Linked DNA regions of Homo sapiens: region 2 is linked to region 1. The links come from fine-mapping of genetic effects on gene expression. Tissue or cell type: whole blood. Region 1 holds a variant in brackets; the other region holds the start of a gene. All regions are shown on one strand. Distances are between the middles of the regions.

The links. PIP is the estimated chance that this variant, and not a neighbour inherited with it, causes the effect.
Region 2: IKBKB starts here. The variant in region 1 is fine-mapped to the expression of IKBKB in whole blood (TOPMed, PIP above 0.99).

What each region holds. Positions count from the first base shown.
Region 1 is chr8:42,315,859-42,323,961 of GRCh38, reverse strand. IKBKB (inhibitor of nuclear factor kappa B kinase subunit beta) reads right to left here. Exons shown (of 22, transcript NM_001556.3): 10 at 7,623-7,752; 11 at 7,058-7,252; 12 at 6,191-6,305; 13 at 5,287-5,410; 14 at 4,541-4,692; 15 at 4,316-4,377; 16 at 3,118-3,227; 17 at 2,017-2,066; 18 at 1,809-1,908; 19 at 1,468-1,615. Among named protein-coding and RNA genes, the nearest start is that of POLB, 19 kb to the left of the region's middle. RefSeq lists enhancers at 1,024-1,523, 1,524-2,025. The variant C/G (reference allele first, on the strand shown) is at 3,349.
Region 2 is chr8:42,266,532-42,274,634 of GRCh38, reverse strand. IKBKB (inhibitor of nuclear factor kappa B kinase subunit beta) reads right to left here and starts at 3,333. Exons shown (of 22, transcript NM_001556.3): 1 at 3,166-3,333; 2 at 2,430-2,552. The coding sequence starts at 2,534. It overlaps IKBKB-DT (IKBKB divergent transcript), which reads left to right and starts at 3,385. Exons shown (of 4, transcript NR_185843.2): 1 at 3,385-3,984. RefSeq lists a silencer at 3,053-3,342 and an enhancer at 3,839-4,338.

The sequences.
Region 1 (8,103 bases):
ATGCCTCTGTCTGTGCCCCTTGAAGGATCAGGCCCTCCTGGGAACAGGTGCCATGCCTTCTCACCTGTGTGTCTTGCTGGGCATATAGTTAGCATTCAGTAAATGCTCAATGGATGTAGATGGCACATCAGGCTATCACCTGCGCATACCTGCACCTCCCTCTCCTCTTCAGATCCTCTCTACCTCGTCATCCTGTTTTCTCCCGTTCCTCTCTTCTTACAGGAGGATGTGTCAATCACGCTCCCAAGGCATGCTCAGTGCTCTGGCATGCGACCCCAGCCCCTCTGTTCTCTGCACTGTGTGTGGATTGTCCCCTCTGCCTTTGACAATGAGAATCTCCTAATGCACCATCTCCTGCTTCCACCATGAGCAACCATCTCCCTCTCTCCTTCCCTTTGCTCTTAAGGGAAACTGACACCTAAATCACTCTTTCATCCATGTCACCTTCTCTGCAGCCTTTCACAATGGGGCTTGCAGTCCCAACAGCTCTGGCTCCCACAACACGGCCAGGCCTGCCCGTCTCAGTTCTTGGCTGTTTTGTTTCCCATTTCCCCACCATGTGGCATCCCATGGACTCACAGCTACGTTAAGACGGTGTGCACAGAAAGCGTGGCTTACTGCACTGAGGGCAGTGCAGACGCAGACGATGGTCAACCAAGTTGCACTGCCGTGCATGACGGTGGGCTGAATTGGTGGCCCTAAGAAGGATATGCCCACATCCCAACTCCTGGAGCCTGTGAGTGTGACCGTACTTGGAGAAAGCGTCTTTAGAGAACCTGAGATGACATCACCCTGGACTACTTGGGTGGGACTCAAATCCAATGACAAGTGTTCTTGTAAGAGTCACCCAGATAAGGGACACAGGGGTCCCATGAAGACAGAGACAGAGACTGGAGTCACACACCAAAGAACGCCTGGAACCACCAGGAGCTGGAAGAAGCAAGGACAGTCCCTCCCCAAGAGCCCTCAGAGGGAGCTCAGCCCTGCTGACACGGGACTTTCAACTCCTGGGCTCTAGAGCTCAGATAACACGTTTGTTTTTGTTTTTAGTAGAGACAGCTCTGCTGCCCAGGTTGGAGTGCAGTGGCATGATCACAGCTCACTGCAGTCTTGAACTCCTGGGCTCAAGCAATCCTCCCACCTCAGCCTCCCCAAATTGCTGGCGTTACAGGCATGAGTCACCATGCCTAGCCCAAATTTCTGTTGTTTTAGCCCCTCAGTTTGTGCTAATCTTTACAGTAGCCACACGAAAGTAATACACAGATGAATGAAAACAATTAGCACAGGCCCTTCCTCTGACCTCCCCGCTTACACCAAGTCAAAGAACAGCGACGTGAAGCCCGAGCAGCAGCTGAGTGGGCTGCTGGTGGCTCTGTGGTGTCCCGTGTGGGATGGCGGCAGTGCACAGAGGTGGAAAGGCACAGGAGGCTGCTAGGCCAAGGGCCCGGGACCACAGCACTCACTCACACAAGCAATCTTCAGGAGATTCCAGAGCTCCTTCTGCCGCTTCTCCTGCAGCCGGACAACAGTCTTCTCATCCTCATTCATTAAGCTCACCACCTCTTCCACCTTGGGCAACAGTTCCAGCGCCTTCTGCTTGCAAACCACAGTTTTACTGCAAAGAATAAACATGGCAAACTAATGGCATTTGGGCTGGAGAAAGCAGAACCTGTGGCAGCTGTGCATCCAGTCAGCAGCTGCAGAAACTCTCTTCATGAGGTCCAGCGAATCAGAGAGGAGGGAGGAAGGTGACCTCATACCTGCATCTCCCAGTCCTTCCTCCAGAGCAGGAAGGTCGGGGCTCATACCTGAGCTGCGTATAGATCACTCGCACTTTCTTCTCGAAGCTCTGAATTGCCTGAAGCAGCAGCCGTACCATTTCCTGACTGTCACCCTCAGTTCGCTGGTCTGGAGAGAGGGAGGGTAGCATAGTTCCTCAAGGAAGCCAGCAGAGAGTAGTGATGCCCCATAAATGAGATAAGGAGAAGCCCAAGGCAGACACAGAACCCCACTTACCTCGAGGTTTTTCCCTTAGTCTCCTGTACAGCTCCCTTGCTTGCTCCTCTCTAAAATATACAAAGAAGTTCTGTCTAGACTTGAGGTCAAATATGGCTAATTTTTACATTTTTTTGGTAGAGGTAGAGTTTCACCATGTTGCCCAGGCTGGTCTCGAACTTCTGGGCTCACAAGCAATCTTCTTGCCTTGGCATCCCAAGGTGCTGGGATTACAGATGTGATCCACTGTGCCCAGCCAAAAACATTTTTTTTTTAAATTAGCTGAGCATGGTGGCATGCGCCTGTAGTCCCGGTTACTTGGGAGGCTGAGATGGGAGGACTGCATAAGCCTGGGAGGTCGAGGCTGCAGTGAGCTATGATTGTGCCACTGCACTCCAGCATTGGCAACAGGGCAAGACCCTGTCTCTTAAAAAAATAATACAAATACAAATAAAAGAACTAGAGGAGAATAAAGGGTTAATTAGAGAAAATACAGAATCAAAGTTCTGACATTTGGAGCTCCTGTCCTAAGAATCCTAGTGAGAGAATCAGGGAACACTGCTGAGCTCACGGTGACACAGCCCTCAAGCGGCCTGCCTGGTTCCCTCCATCTGTACGCCAGGAGCACATGTGATCTCCTTCAGGTAGGAGTGATCTGCCTAGACCCCTCCGCCCCTCATGGAGCCAATGCCAAATACCTGACAAAGACTCAAACGAATAGTTTCCAGGTCCAAACTCCTAAGCCTCATCAGGTTCTTCCTTCTCTGTTTTACTTTCTGCTCTGAGCTATGCCTGAGTCAGGGTGGGTGGAACAAATCAGGGGAGTCTGCTACAGGGGTAGAGGCTGCTTGCATTTTACAGCCTTTACAGATTATGGCCTGCGTCTCAAATGCATTATCTGAATTCATCCTTACAACTTCGTGACTTAAGACTGTTTTTCTTGTCACTGAACAGATTTGGAAACTGAAGCTCAGTGATGATTTGCTGGAAGTGACCCCACAGGGAAGCATGCTCTAGAGAATGGTCCCGCACAGCCACTGAGGGTGCCCTTGACACACACACCGAAGCTCCAGGGCTGTCTGTGTGTGCTGGGCACAGAGGGGCCCCCCAGCCAGTACTCACAGGTCGTCCAGCGTTCCCCCCTGCTTCCGGCCCATGGGGCTCCTCTGTAAGTCCACAATGTCGGTCTGCAGAGCCATCATCCGTTCTACCAGGAGTTTCACTTCGTTCTCCTAATGGAAAAGCTGTGCTAATGTCAACTGATGTGGTAGGCGCATGCTGAGATGCAAGATCTGCGGGGGAGCGAGACCAGGGGACCCGCCACATTCCCTGAGGACCCTCAATGGACTGGCT[C/G]AAAGGAATGTGGACTGTGGGGTCTGAATGGCTGCGCCTGCATCTAGGGTCCACCGCTTTCTAGCTGTGTGACCCCTTGGCAAGTTACTTACCCCCAGCTACAGTTTCCTTTTGCATAAAATAGGCTTCTAACAGGGCCATCTGAGGAGTCAAGTAAGATGAAGTACTTAAAGCCTCTGGCATGGTGCCTGGCATACAGAAGATGCCCAAGACACATTACTTTCTCTTCTCTTCATCTGTCTATCCTGATGCTACCCGGGCAGGGAGGCCCAGACTGTTTTATTTCACAGATTATGAGTCCCAAGATGGGGAGGAGCACTCAGCCCTTCTATGGTTAATATTCACCATTAAACACACATATACTCCATCAGTACTGATTCATAAAAATCGATACTAAGACACAGGTGAAGATCCTTGCCCAAGTACACAGGGGAAAACAGAGGATAAGTCCAGGAAAAAGCCCCGGAGCCTGACTTCAACCTTCAGTTTGTGTGAGGTTCATTAAGTCACATGTATTTCCTTTGCCTTCATAATTAACTTTTTTTGGTGACATCTGATTTACGCTGCCCTGAGACTTTCTGCCTAGACCTTTTATTTCCTATGGATTTAGCATCCCAACAAAATTAGTCAAAAACCTTCGACAAGAGGGAGTGTTGATCATCCATCCAATGCCCTTCCTAACAGGAAATGGTCTTGGCTTTTCCCCAAGGGAACCTAACCCTTGCTTCTTATTTAAACCTGGACCATCTCTGTCCATTCATGCAGCTCTTGCATCTGGCCACAGAGGGGCTCCCTTCACTGGCTACTCTCTTGGCCTCTTTTCAGCTGGTCCAGTTAAGCTCAAAGCATGGTGAGGAACACCTGATTTTTGACAGAGATCGACCCAGTGTTTGATGAGAAAGTGAAAAGTGGGAGCACAAAATCTCACCCCCTTGGTAAGTTCCGAAACCCAAAATGAGTCTCCTACCCGCCCACAGAGCTCCACAGCCTGCTCCATTTCCCTCCAGGCCAGCAGCAGTTTATCTGATGCTGAAAAAAAATTGAGAAGGAAAAACAAAACAAAACAAAATAAAAACACCACAAAACTGAAACAGAAATAAGCAACTCAATTATAATAGGACAAAAGAAACCTTAGAAAGAGAAAAAGAAAAAAAAATGGTGTCTTTAAACTCATTGCAAAGTGCACACTCACTGATCCCAAACTCGGTTTGCTCGCTGTACTTCTCCAGGTCAATCTGGATGCTGGTTTTGAAGAAATCCAACTTGGCCTTGAGCTGCTGAGACATGGAAGCCATGGAATTCTTCATTTTGGAGAGGCAGCTGTTGTTTCGGAGGAGATTCATCCTGCAGGGACCACAAGGAACAGTCTTGGAGCATCTCTGGGATCCAAATTCCATTTCCTGTACAATAACAAAACCCCCTCAAATGTCAAGGGAGGTCCCTGCTATAATTATTATCATCATCACTATTATTATAGCAGCCACTTATAACCCAAGGACAATTTCCTAGCCCTCAGCAATGCCTGAGGTTCTGCACTAAACTTGACATCAGGCAAAGGAAGACACAAAAGGCCAATAATGTTGGCAAACGAGTCACAATGAGGAAAGAGTCCGTAAGTCCCCAGCAGCACGGTCAGGGGAGTTTTGCTAATCCACATGGTAGTGAGCTCCTCTGGGTTCCCAAACCAGCCACAGCTTGGCCAGCCCAGCTTCAGTTCCACACTCCTCACCCTGTGCCAACCACACTCACCTCGCCAGGTCTAAAGGGGCCTCCGTCAGTCCAGCCCACCCAACCGCTTCCCGTCCATCCAAACCAGTGTCTTCCTTTTGTTGCTCATAACGGTTGCTTCTGGGTCCCTGCCTCAACCACCTCCCTGTGGCCAAAGCCACCAAGGAATTTTAAATAAATTAAGTTTAAAAAAAAAGCCTGGCACGCTACATGGCGGCTCGCTGTCCCTGCTGCAGCCGGTTGCAATCTTCCTTCAGGGTCTGGATGCTGTGCCAGACCTGGCCCCACACCTTCCTCAGCTGGAAGAAGGCGAGATTCCTCTTGGGCTCTTGAACTGGAGACAGAGACACAAGCAATTGTCAAAGAATAACCACAATAACTCTCCTACAATTAACCATATCCTGCCTTCGACACTACTGGCACTTTCACGTTTTGTACCTACTATAGGATCATGTAACTTTGGAGGGTGTTATGCCTGGTTACTGTCACATACATGTATTTGTACCAACAGCATGTACCAGTGGTCAATAAGTAGCTGTTGATTTGAAGGAACACTTTACGAACCATTGGACACATATGTATATAGGGCCATATATTTTCAACAGAATTTTTTTTTTTTTTTTGAGACAAGGTCTCGCTCTTGTCACCCAGGCTGGCATGCAGTGGGGGTGATCATGACTCACTGCAGCCTTGAACTCTCAGGCTCAAGTGATCCTTCTGCCTCAGCCTCCTGAATAGCTGGACTACAGGCATGCACCACCACATCTGGCTAATTTCTAAATTTTTAGTAGACTTGCGAGCTTACTATATTACCCAGGCTGGTCTTGAACTCCTGGGCTCAAGTGATCCTCCTGCCTCAGCCTCCCAAAGTGCTGGGATTACAGGTGTGAGCCACCACGCCCGTCCTAGGAGGTTGAAATTAACTAATGGTTTCCTGTACTCTCTCTTGCCTGGCTACTCCTTGCATGTCCTAAATAAGGAAGGCTGCCCTGAGGACTGGCGATATTAATTTCCTTTACGTGGCTCCCCCTTCCTTAGTCCAGTCTCCCTTCCCTGCCTTGTCCCACATATTATAACGGATTATTTAGAAAAACAAAACATAACAAATTCTTACGGATACAGCTGACACTTTCAGGTTGGGGCCGTGGGGAGATCTGAGTCTCATAGGTGATTTTACTGTTGTCAAAGAGAAAAACAAGATCCATGTCCAATGTGTGGCCCTCATTTAACTGCAAAGGGACAAGGACAAAATGAATCTTGTGGATCCAACCCTCTCTTTTCTAACTGATAATGAAGAAGTTCCACAGCTTTCCCCACTGTTCAGCAAGAGCATCATCTTCAGCCAGCAAGTAGGAAGCATCCATGAAGTGTTTAACGTTTCCAGCCACACTTACTGTCTGAACACACTCTTTATTTACAAACGTATTACATTCTATTTTACTCTCTGTCTTCCCTGGGAAGTTCAGAAATTCACTATATACTTCCCTATGCAATGATTATTTCTCATATGATAACTTTAGCTCCACAAGTCAGCTGAGAAGGTCTTTTTGAGCAGAGGTCATGTCTTACACAGCTATAGTTAACACAGGTGCCTAACCCAGTTCTGTACACAGAGGCCATCATAAATACTTTCAGTTGACTCAAGAAAGTGCAGCATCCTTTTTTTTTTTTTTTTTAGTACACTTGGAAGAGGGCCAAGCAGGCAACTTGAGAGATTCGAGTGTTATAGCATCATTTTTTGCAATAAAGGCAAGAGACCGGTCTTGGAGGGTTTGGAAGTAACAAGTCCAGCAAGGAGATTTGTGTTTCCTATCAGGCCACACAGAGGACACCATACTCCAACTTAAAAACCAGCCAGGTATCCGCACTGTGTGATTAACAGACTACATGACAAAGCAGAATTGAAATCTGAAAGTGTGTTGAGTTTCCCAGGAGGCACAGCCAAGGTAAACAGGATGGTGTGTACGAAGCCAGGGCTCACCTTGCCGTCTGAAATACACTGAGTGGCAGGCTTATCGGGGATCAACGCCAGGCCCGCTTCCTGCAGCAGCTCCTGGTCCTCCTCTGGGATGCCCGTGTCCTGTTGGATTCTGGCCTTCAAGCTCTGCAGACTCTCATCCTCTGTCACAGGGTAGGTGTGGATGGTGCCCGTGACCATGTTCAAGATATGAACCAGCTGCAACACAACCCAGATGTTACTGGAAAACCGATTTCTTCAAGGAAATGCCCATCTATTTGCCTAGGTCCTCTCTCTGCTACTCCCAACATTTCCCAACCACACAAAGCAAGGGCCTAGCTTGAGGGAGGGAGGTCATGTGCCATGTTTCGCATATTTGCATCTTTCATAATCCTGTCTGTGGCTATGACCTCATAGCCAATGTCAATTAGCACAACTGTCCTTTCTTTACTTATGCAGAAAGACTGATGCAGGAGCCTAAATTTCCTCACTAGGTCAGCTGGCCCCATCCCCTGCTCTGTCCTAAGAACTGCATGTTCCACTGGGGACCCCAGCTTTTGCCTCAGGGCTAACTTGGCTCCACACTCACCTTTAAGTTTAAGATGTCATCCAGGGCCTTGAAGCAGCCATTGGGCCCATACGTGGGATCCGTGCCCCTCTGTCGGGGGTGCCACATCAGCATCAGTTGCAGCCACTTCTCCAGTCGCTCAGCCAGGACACTGTGGAGAGGAGCATAGTGTGTGAGGAGACACTTCCAGCCAATGTTGGGCTACAGTGTGCGTCTCCCAGTATACACACAGACGGCAGCCAGTAGACGGTGATTGAAAATGAAAATGGGTTTATCAGAAACAGTATAAACATTTCCAATCAATTATTCAGGTGTTCACACCTCTCTCCTGAATTCTAAAATACCCCCAAATCAGAGATTGCTGACCTCCAAATGGCTGCATAAGAATGACCCATGAGAGCCGGGCACAGTGGCTCATGCCTGTAATCCCACACTTTGGGGAGGCCAAAGCAGGTGGATCACTTGAGGTCAGGAGTTTGAGACCAGCCTGGCCAACATGGTG
Region 2 (8,103 bases), 49 kb after region 1:
CTTGAACCTGGGAGGCAGAGGTTGCAGTGAGCCAAGATCGCGCCACTGCACTCCAGCCTGGGCGACAAGAGCAAAACTCCGTCTCAAAACAACAACAACAACAACAACAAACTAATCTCGCAGAAGTAGAAAGTAGAATAGTGGTCACCAGAGGCAGGAAAGGGTGGTGGGGGTGGGGGGAGTTGTGGAGGGAAATAGGGAGAGACTGGTTAATGGGTACAAAATTACGGTTAGGTGGAATAAGTTACAGTATTCTAAAGAACAACAGGGTGACTACAGTGAATAAAACTTTATTGTATATTTCAGGCCGGACGTAGTGGCTCACGCTTGTAATCCAAGCACTTTGGGTGGCTGAGGTGGGCAGATCACCTGAGGTCAGGAGTTTGAGACCGGCATGGCCTACATGGTGAAACCCCATTTCTACTAAAAATACAAAAATTAGCTGGCATGGTGGTGCACACCTGTAATTCCAGGTACTCAGGAGGCTGAGGCAGGAGAATCACTTGAACTCAAGAGGCGGAGGTTGCAGTGAGCCAAGATCACACCACTGCACTCCAGCCTGGGCAACAGTGCGAGACTCTGTCTCCGGAAAAAAAAAAATATTGTATATTTCAAAATAGCCAGAAGAAAGAATTTTGACTGTTTCCAACAAAAAGGATACGTGTTTCAAGTGATGAACACGCCAATTACCCCGATTTGATCATTACACATTATGTATCAAAATATCACACTGTACCCCATAAATATGTACAATTATTATGTGTCAATTAAAAATAAAAACAGGCCAGGTTCAATGACTCATGGCTGTAATCCCAGCACTTTGAGAGGCCAAGGCAGGAAGATCACTTGAGGCCAAGAGTTCTAGACGAGCCTGGACAACATTGTGAGACCACCATCACTACAAAAAATAAAAAAAAAACCTCAGCTGAGGCCAGGTCCCATGGCTCAGGCCTGTAATCCAAACATTTTGGGAGGCAAAGACGGGAAGACTGCTTGAGGATGAGAGTTTGAGACAAGCCTGGGCAACATAGCAAGACCCCATCTCTACAAAATTTAAAAAAATGTTAATTATTTGAAATATGGATTTTCATCATCATTCTAAATGAATTCTCACTTTCATGTGGATCTGCTTATTTTTTGCCGTGCAGTATCGCAAGCAATACTGGGAAGACATCATAATTAGCAAATATTTTAAATATATATATATATATATATTTTTTGAGACAGGGTCTCATTCTGTCACCCAGGCTGGAATGCAGTGACACTATCTCGGCTCACTGCAACCTCTGCCTCCTGGGTTCAAGCGATTCTCCTGCCTCAGCCTCCTGAGTAGCTGAAGTTACAGGCATGCACCACCACACCAGCTAATTTTGTATTTTTAGTAGAGATGAGGTTTCACCATGTTGGCCAGGCTGGTCTCAAACTCCTGACCTCAAGTGATCCTCCTGCCTCGGCCTCCCAAAGTGCTGGGATTACAGGTGTAAGCCACTGCACCCGACATTTAAAATAATTTTTAAAAAATGGTTTTGAAACAAGGTCTCACTCTGTCACCTAGGCTAGAGTGCAGTGGCACAATCATAGCTCACTACAGCCTCAAACTCCTGGACAAGCAATCCTCCCACATCAGCCTCCAATGTAGTGGGACTACAGGTACGCACCAAGGCTGCCTAAGGTTTTTTTTTTTTTTTTTTTTTTGAGACGGAGTCTCACTCTGTTACCCAGGCTGGAGTGCAGTAGCGCAATCTTGGCTCACTGCAACCTCCGCCTCATGGGTTCAAGCGATTCTCCTGCCTCAGCCTCCCAAGTAGCTGGGGACTACAGGCACGTGCCACCAAGCCTGGCTAATTCTTTGTATTTTTAGTAGAGATGGGGTTTCACAGTGTTAGCCAGGATGGTCTCCATCTCCTGACTGCGTGATCCGCCTGCCTCAGCCTCCCAAAGTGCTGAGATTACAGGTATAAGCCACCACGCCCAGCTGGCTGCCTAATTTTTAAACCTTTTTTGTAGAGACGAGGTCTTGCTATGTTGCCCAGGCTGCTCTTGAACTACTGGCCTCAAGGAATTAAAATATTTTAAATTATTTATTTAGTCTCATCCTTTAAATTTTCCTATTTCTATATGTTTTATAACATATAATATCAGTATATATTAGTACATGATATTCTACTGTTACCATATATATATAATAGAGACTAAGAGCTTAACTTTATTTTACTATTTATTTAGGTGACATAGTCAATAAAGCATGGAGACCACTAACCTGGAGTCAGCTCAGAAGTCCTGAAGCCCTCTTCCCAGTCCCCCTATTCACTGTCCCAAGATGACCAAAGCCAAAGGTGAGCCCTTGGCCCAGCAGGATCAGAGAAAGTGGAGGCAGTGAGGAGGGGGCCTGGCTCCCCGCCCCTCCCCAAGCTGCACAGAGGGCCTACCTGATTGTGCCATCGGATGACATTTCCAAATCCCCCTGTCCCAAGGCGCTCTTTCATTTCCCAGGCCCCACATGTCTGCGTTGTCAGGGAAGGTGACCAGCTCATACTGATGTCGTGCTAACTCTATAAGCAATTTGGGATGGGGAAAAAAGGTTAGGATTAAGAAAAAAATGGAGCTCAAAGGGATGGAGAAGGCAAGAGATACCACTGCTCTTGAATGGGAGAGAAGAAAAATACAACTGGTTTTTTATTTTGTAAAGAAACCAATGTGTTTGGTTGGTCCAAACTTTGTGGCAAACTTTTGTCCCTCTCACCCTCCCCCATCCGGTTGCTGTGGCATCAGGCAAGGAAGAAAGTCACCGAGGGAGGCGATGCCCACGCCCTTGCCCTAGCGAGGGGATCCCCAGCTGACTCCACCAGGGGCGCCCGGGCCTGCCCGCCTTCTGCCCGAGGTGGCAGGGGCAGAACCTACTTCTGAGCATCGCCGAGGTCACGTGTTTCTTTACAATGTTCCCATAAATCGCAGGTTCCCCTCAAAGCCACCCACCCCCAAGAAGCCACCCCAGGGAGAGCTGTTTCTCCCGGCTTCCCGAACTCCAACCCGCACAAGTGAAACGCTCCCCAGTCCGCAAGCTGCGACTTCCCAGCGGCACAGAGGGGTCTTCCGGGCCTTGCAGGCAGCGGGGCGGCGGGGCCTGCAGGTGGCACCCGGGCCGCACCCACGAGGGGGACTCACCTGTCGGCAGGGACGCGGGGCAGGGGGCGGGCTCCCCGGGGCGGGGAAGGCGGGGCTGGGGCGGCCAAACCCGGGGCTATGACACCCCCCTGAAAACATTAAAATGCGGGAATCTTAACGCGGGCAGCGCGGCGCGACTTCCTCAAACACTTCCTGCTCTGACGTCACGGAGCACGTTGGCCGCGGCCGCTCTTAAAGAGGCCGCTCCCGGCGCGAGGCAGACCAGGTCCGGATGCTGCGAGTGCTGCGCCTGTCCCGGGACCCTCGACCGGGCGACTCCCCCGGGGCGGGGGTGGCGTGTGGTCTCTAGACAACTGAGGGAAAGTAGACAGACCGTGCTCACCGATTTAAAAGAACAGCCCTGAAATGACCCCCGTTACACCCTGTTCTCTTTAGACAAGTTACTTCCACCTGGAGCGGTTTCTGGGCCCGGGTATGGGGATTTCTTCACCCGGCCCCCTAGGCTTTCACCTCGGTGGAATTTCCCGCGCCCCCGCTGGGATGATTTAGGGACTGTTGGCTAGAACTGCCCTTGCCTACCGCCCTACTGCGGGCGCTCCCCTGTCTGGGGGGTGCTTGGCTGGGTGTGGAGAAGGATCAATCACAGCTGACTCCTCAGAGGTGACAGCCCCTGCCCCCTTAAAAACAAGAAAAGACCTAGCAGTGTGAAGCCAAACTGCACCCCCAGCCCCGGTGACATGAGGAAACCGTGAGGCGCTCAGCCTGAGGTTCATCGTTCATCTCCTTCCTGCTTGGAATCAGAATGTCCTCACTGCTGAGTTTCTCCGTTTTATGGGATTACATTAGTGGACAAAGGAGGTGTGTGTGTGTGTTGCTATATTTTATTCAAGCAGAAAAAAACTACCAAAGGAACCTGAAGATGATAATAATAGCTCACATCTATAGAGTGCTTACACAGTGCAGGGCTCTGTTCTAAATCTCTGTACTTAGATTTCCTTATTCAATCCTCAGGGCAACCCTGTAAATTGGAAAATACTGCATCATCATCATCATTATTATTATTATCTCGCTCTGTCACCCAGGCTGGAGTGCAGTGGTGTGATCACAGCTCAGTGCAACCTCCAACTCCTGGGCTCAAGTGATTCTCCTGACTACAGGTGCGCGGCCGCCATACCTGGTGGCGGGGTCTCACTCACTGTGTTGCCCAGGCTGGTCTCCAACTCCTGGGCTCAAGGGATCCACCCGCCTGGGCTTCCCAAAGTGTTGAGATTACAGGCTGTGAGCCACTGCACCTGGTCTGCATTATTATTATTTCCAAGGTACATGGCTGCTACGTAGATGAGCTGATACTCAAACCCTAGCAACTGGTTCCCGGGTTCTTAATCCGTGGCTAAAAGTAGCATGTTAAGAAGTTCAGAAGGAGGCAAACTGGATTTTGAATCCAGATACTGCTGTTGACTACCTCTGAGGCACGGGGGCTGGTTACTTAAACACTGTGAGAACCTATTTCCTCTTTTAAAATTTAGGCAATATTAGGTTGAATTGCATTTAATTGTCATTTTTTGGAAATTGAAAACAGCCAAAACATCAGTAACAAAGATCAGCAGTTTCATCTGCTTCATTGTAATAGCAGGGGGACAGGCGGGCTCATAGAAAGTCATAGAAAGGAGGCCACCCCAGAGTTGTTGTGAGGGACAAATGAGGTATTGATAGCAGCAGTGCCTGACAGCCCTGGGGTTGAAGTTAACTCAGGGACAGATCTCAACCCAAACATAGGGGTCAATGGTGTCCAGGGCTGTGCTAGGCACGCTGGCTGCTCGGTTTCTCCCCTCTCCCCTCTTCCCTCTCCTTTCTCTTTTTCTTTCTCTCTCTCTCTCTTTTCCTTCCTTCCTTCCCCCTCCCCTCTCCTCCCCTCCCCTCCACTCCCCTCCCCTTCCCTTCCCTTCCCGGCTACTTGGTTTCTTTCTTTTCCTTCTTTTCCTTCCTTCCTATCTCTCCTCCTTCCTTCCTTCTTTCCTTCTTTCCTTTCCTTTTCCTCCCCTCCCCTCCCCTCCCCTCCCCTCCCCTCGCTTCCCCTCCCCTTCCCTTCCCAGCTGCTAGCTTTCTTTTTTTTCTTTCCTTTCTTTCTTCCTTTCCTTTCCTTTCTTCCTTTCCTTTCCTTTTCTTTCCTTTTCTTTCTTTTTTCTTTCTTGACAGGGCCTTTCTCTATCGCCCACTTTGGAGTATAGTGGCAGGATCACGGCTCACTGCAGTCTTGACCTCCTGGGTTCAAGGGGTCCTCCCGCCTCAGCCTCCCCACTAGCTGAGATTACAGGCACGTGCCACCATGACCAGCTAATTTTTAAATTTTATTTTGTTGACATGGGGGTCTCACTATGTTGCTCAGACTTGGCTTGAACTCCTGGCCTCAAAGCAATCCTCCCGCCTTGGCCTCCCTAAGTGCTGGGATTACAGGTGTGAGCCACCGCTTCTGGCCTGGTATTTCTTGATTACTCCCAGCTAAATGGCAAGCTCAGCCTCAAGGCCAGAAGCAACAGGAACATGAGTAAATAGTTGTAACACACGTAGAATAGTGACTGCATTGTCTAAGTGCAATATAAGTGTTTGCTTAATAAGTAAATTTTTTAAATAAAATATTTATTGGCCAGGTGAGGTGGCTCATGCCTGTAATCCCAGCACTTTGGGAGGCCAAGGTAGGCAGATCACTTGAGGTCAGGAATTTGAGACCAGCCTGGCCAACATGGTGAAACCACGTCTCTACGAAAAATACAAAAATTAGCTGGGCGTGGTGGCAGGTGCCTATAATCCCAGCTACTTGGGAGGCTGAGGCAGGAGAATCACTTGAACCCAGGAGCTGGAGGTTGCAGTGAGTGGAGATCGCACCAGTGCACTACAACGTGGGCGACAGAGCGAGACTCCATCTCAAAAAAAAAAATTTGGCCGGGTGTGGTGGCTCACCCCTGTAATCTCAGCACTTTGGAAGGCCGAGGCAGGCAGATCACTTGAGGTCAGGAGTTCAAGACTAGCCTGGCCAACATAGTGAAACCCCGTCTCTACTAAAAATACAAAAATTAGGCCAGGCACAGTGGCTTACACCTGTAATGCCAGCACTTTGGGAGGCCAAGGCGGGCAGATCACGAGGTCAGGAGATCAAGACCATCCTGGCCAATATGGTGAAACGCCATCTCTACTAAAAATACAAAAAAATTAGCTGGGCGTGGTGGCACGTGCCTGTAATCCAAGCTACTCGGGAGGCTGAGGCAGGAGAATCGCTTGAACCCAGGAGGCAGAGGTTGCAGTGAGCCGAGATCGTGCCATTGCACTCCAGCCTGGGCGACAAGAGCAAAACTCCATCTAAAAAAAAAAAAAAAAAAAAAAATTATTGAGCACCTATATGTGCTGGGCACTGTGGAGAGTCCATTTCCAGTACAATGTCATAAAAGGTTTCTCTTTAATCCTGTCATCTCTGAAAAACACTGTCCTGAGAAACTTACCAAGATGTCCGCTAATATGCCAAAAGTTTACTCTGCGCTCCTGTAATTTGAATCCTCATTTTGCTCAGCTCAAAATAACTTGGCTTTCAACTGAACATAAATCTCTCTGATAAGGTCACGTATTACTAGGCTTTTTTTTTCTTCAATTAATCATGGACCAGGAAGGGGCCTCTGGGTTTTATCATATTCCAAGATATTTATTATCTTAAGCTCAATTTTCTATCCAGATAAGACATGTTTAGCTATCTCTGCCTGCATCTGGTTTCTGTCCTGCTCTGGAGATATGAGCAGACTGTTTACAAAAGATATTTTCAGATTCAGCAGAAAAATGTCCCCTTTTCTTCCTGCTTTGAGGCTGAGTGTGCTTTTTAGCTGTGCTATAGGGAAATCAAGAAATACTGACCAGCCAGAGTGCCTAGCTCAGCCCAGGGCATTACTGACCCAGGGGATCCAAGCAATGGAATGAGATCTCATCAGAGGCACTTAGAATCTTACTGGGTTTTTAAGACCCACAGGGAGCCATGAAGTAAGGACAGACAAAGGCCAGGCAATATAAAATCACACACGGATTTGTTCTGCAGTAATTAGTACCACAGTACAGTACCGTTATAGGAAAGGGGTCCCGATCCAGACCCCAAGAGAGGGTTCTTGGATCTCGCGCAAGAAAGAATTCAGGGCGAGTCAGTAAAGTGAAAGCAAGTTTATTAAGAAAGTAGGGGCCAGGCATGGTGGCTCACTCCTGTAATCCCAGCACTTTGGGAGGCAGGTGGATCACGAGGTCAGGAGATGGAGACCATCCTGGCTAACACGGTGAAACCCCGTCTCTACTAAAAATACAAAAAATTAGCCAGGCATGGTGGCGGGCGCCTGTAGTCCCAGCTACTCAGGAGGCTGAGGCAGGAGAATGGTGTGAACCCAGGAGGTGGATGGATCTTGCAGTGAGCCAAGATCGCGCCAGTGTACTCCAACCTGGGCGACAGAGCGAGACTCCACCTCAAAAAAAAAAAAAACAAAAAAAAAACAAACAAAAAAAGAAGGTAAAGGAATAACAGAACGGCTACTCCTTAGACAGAGCAGCCCCCGAGGGCTACTGGTTGCCCATTTTTATGTTTATTTATTTATGCTAAACAAGGGGTGGGTTATTCATGCCTCCCTTTTTTAGACCAAATAGGGTAACTTCCTGATGTTGCCATGGCATTTGTAAACTGTCATGGTGCTGGTGGGAGTATAACAGTGAGGACGACCAGATGTCACTCTCGTGGCCATCTTGGTTTTGGTGGGTTAGAGCCGGCTTCTTTACCGAAACCTGTTTTATCTGCAGGGTCTTTATGACCTATATCTTGTGCAGACCTCCTGTCTCGTTCTGTGACTTAGAATGCCTTAACCATCTGGGAATGCAGCCCAGTAGGTCTCAGCCTCATTTTACCCAGCTCCTATTCAAGATGGAGTTGCTCTGGTTCAAATGCTTCTGGCAGTACTAGTG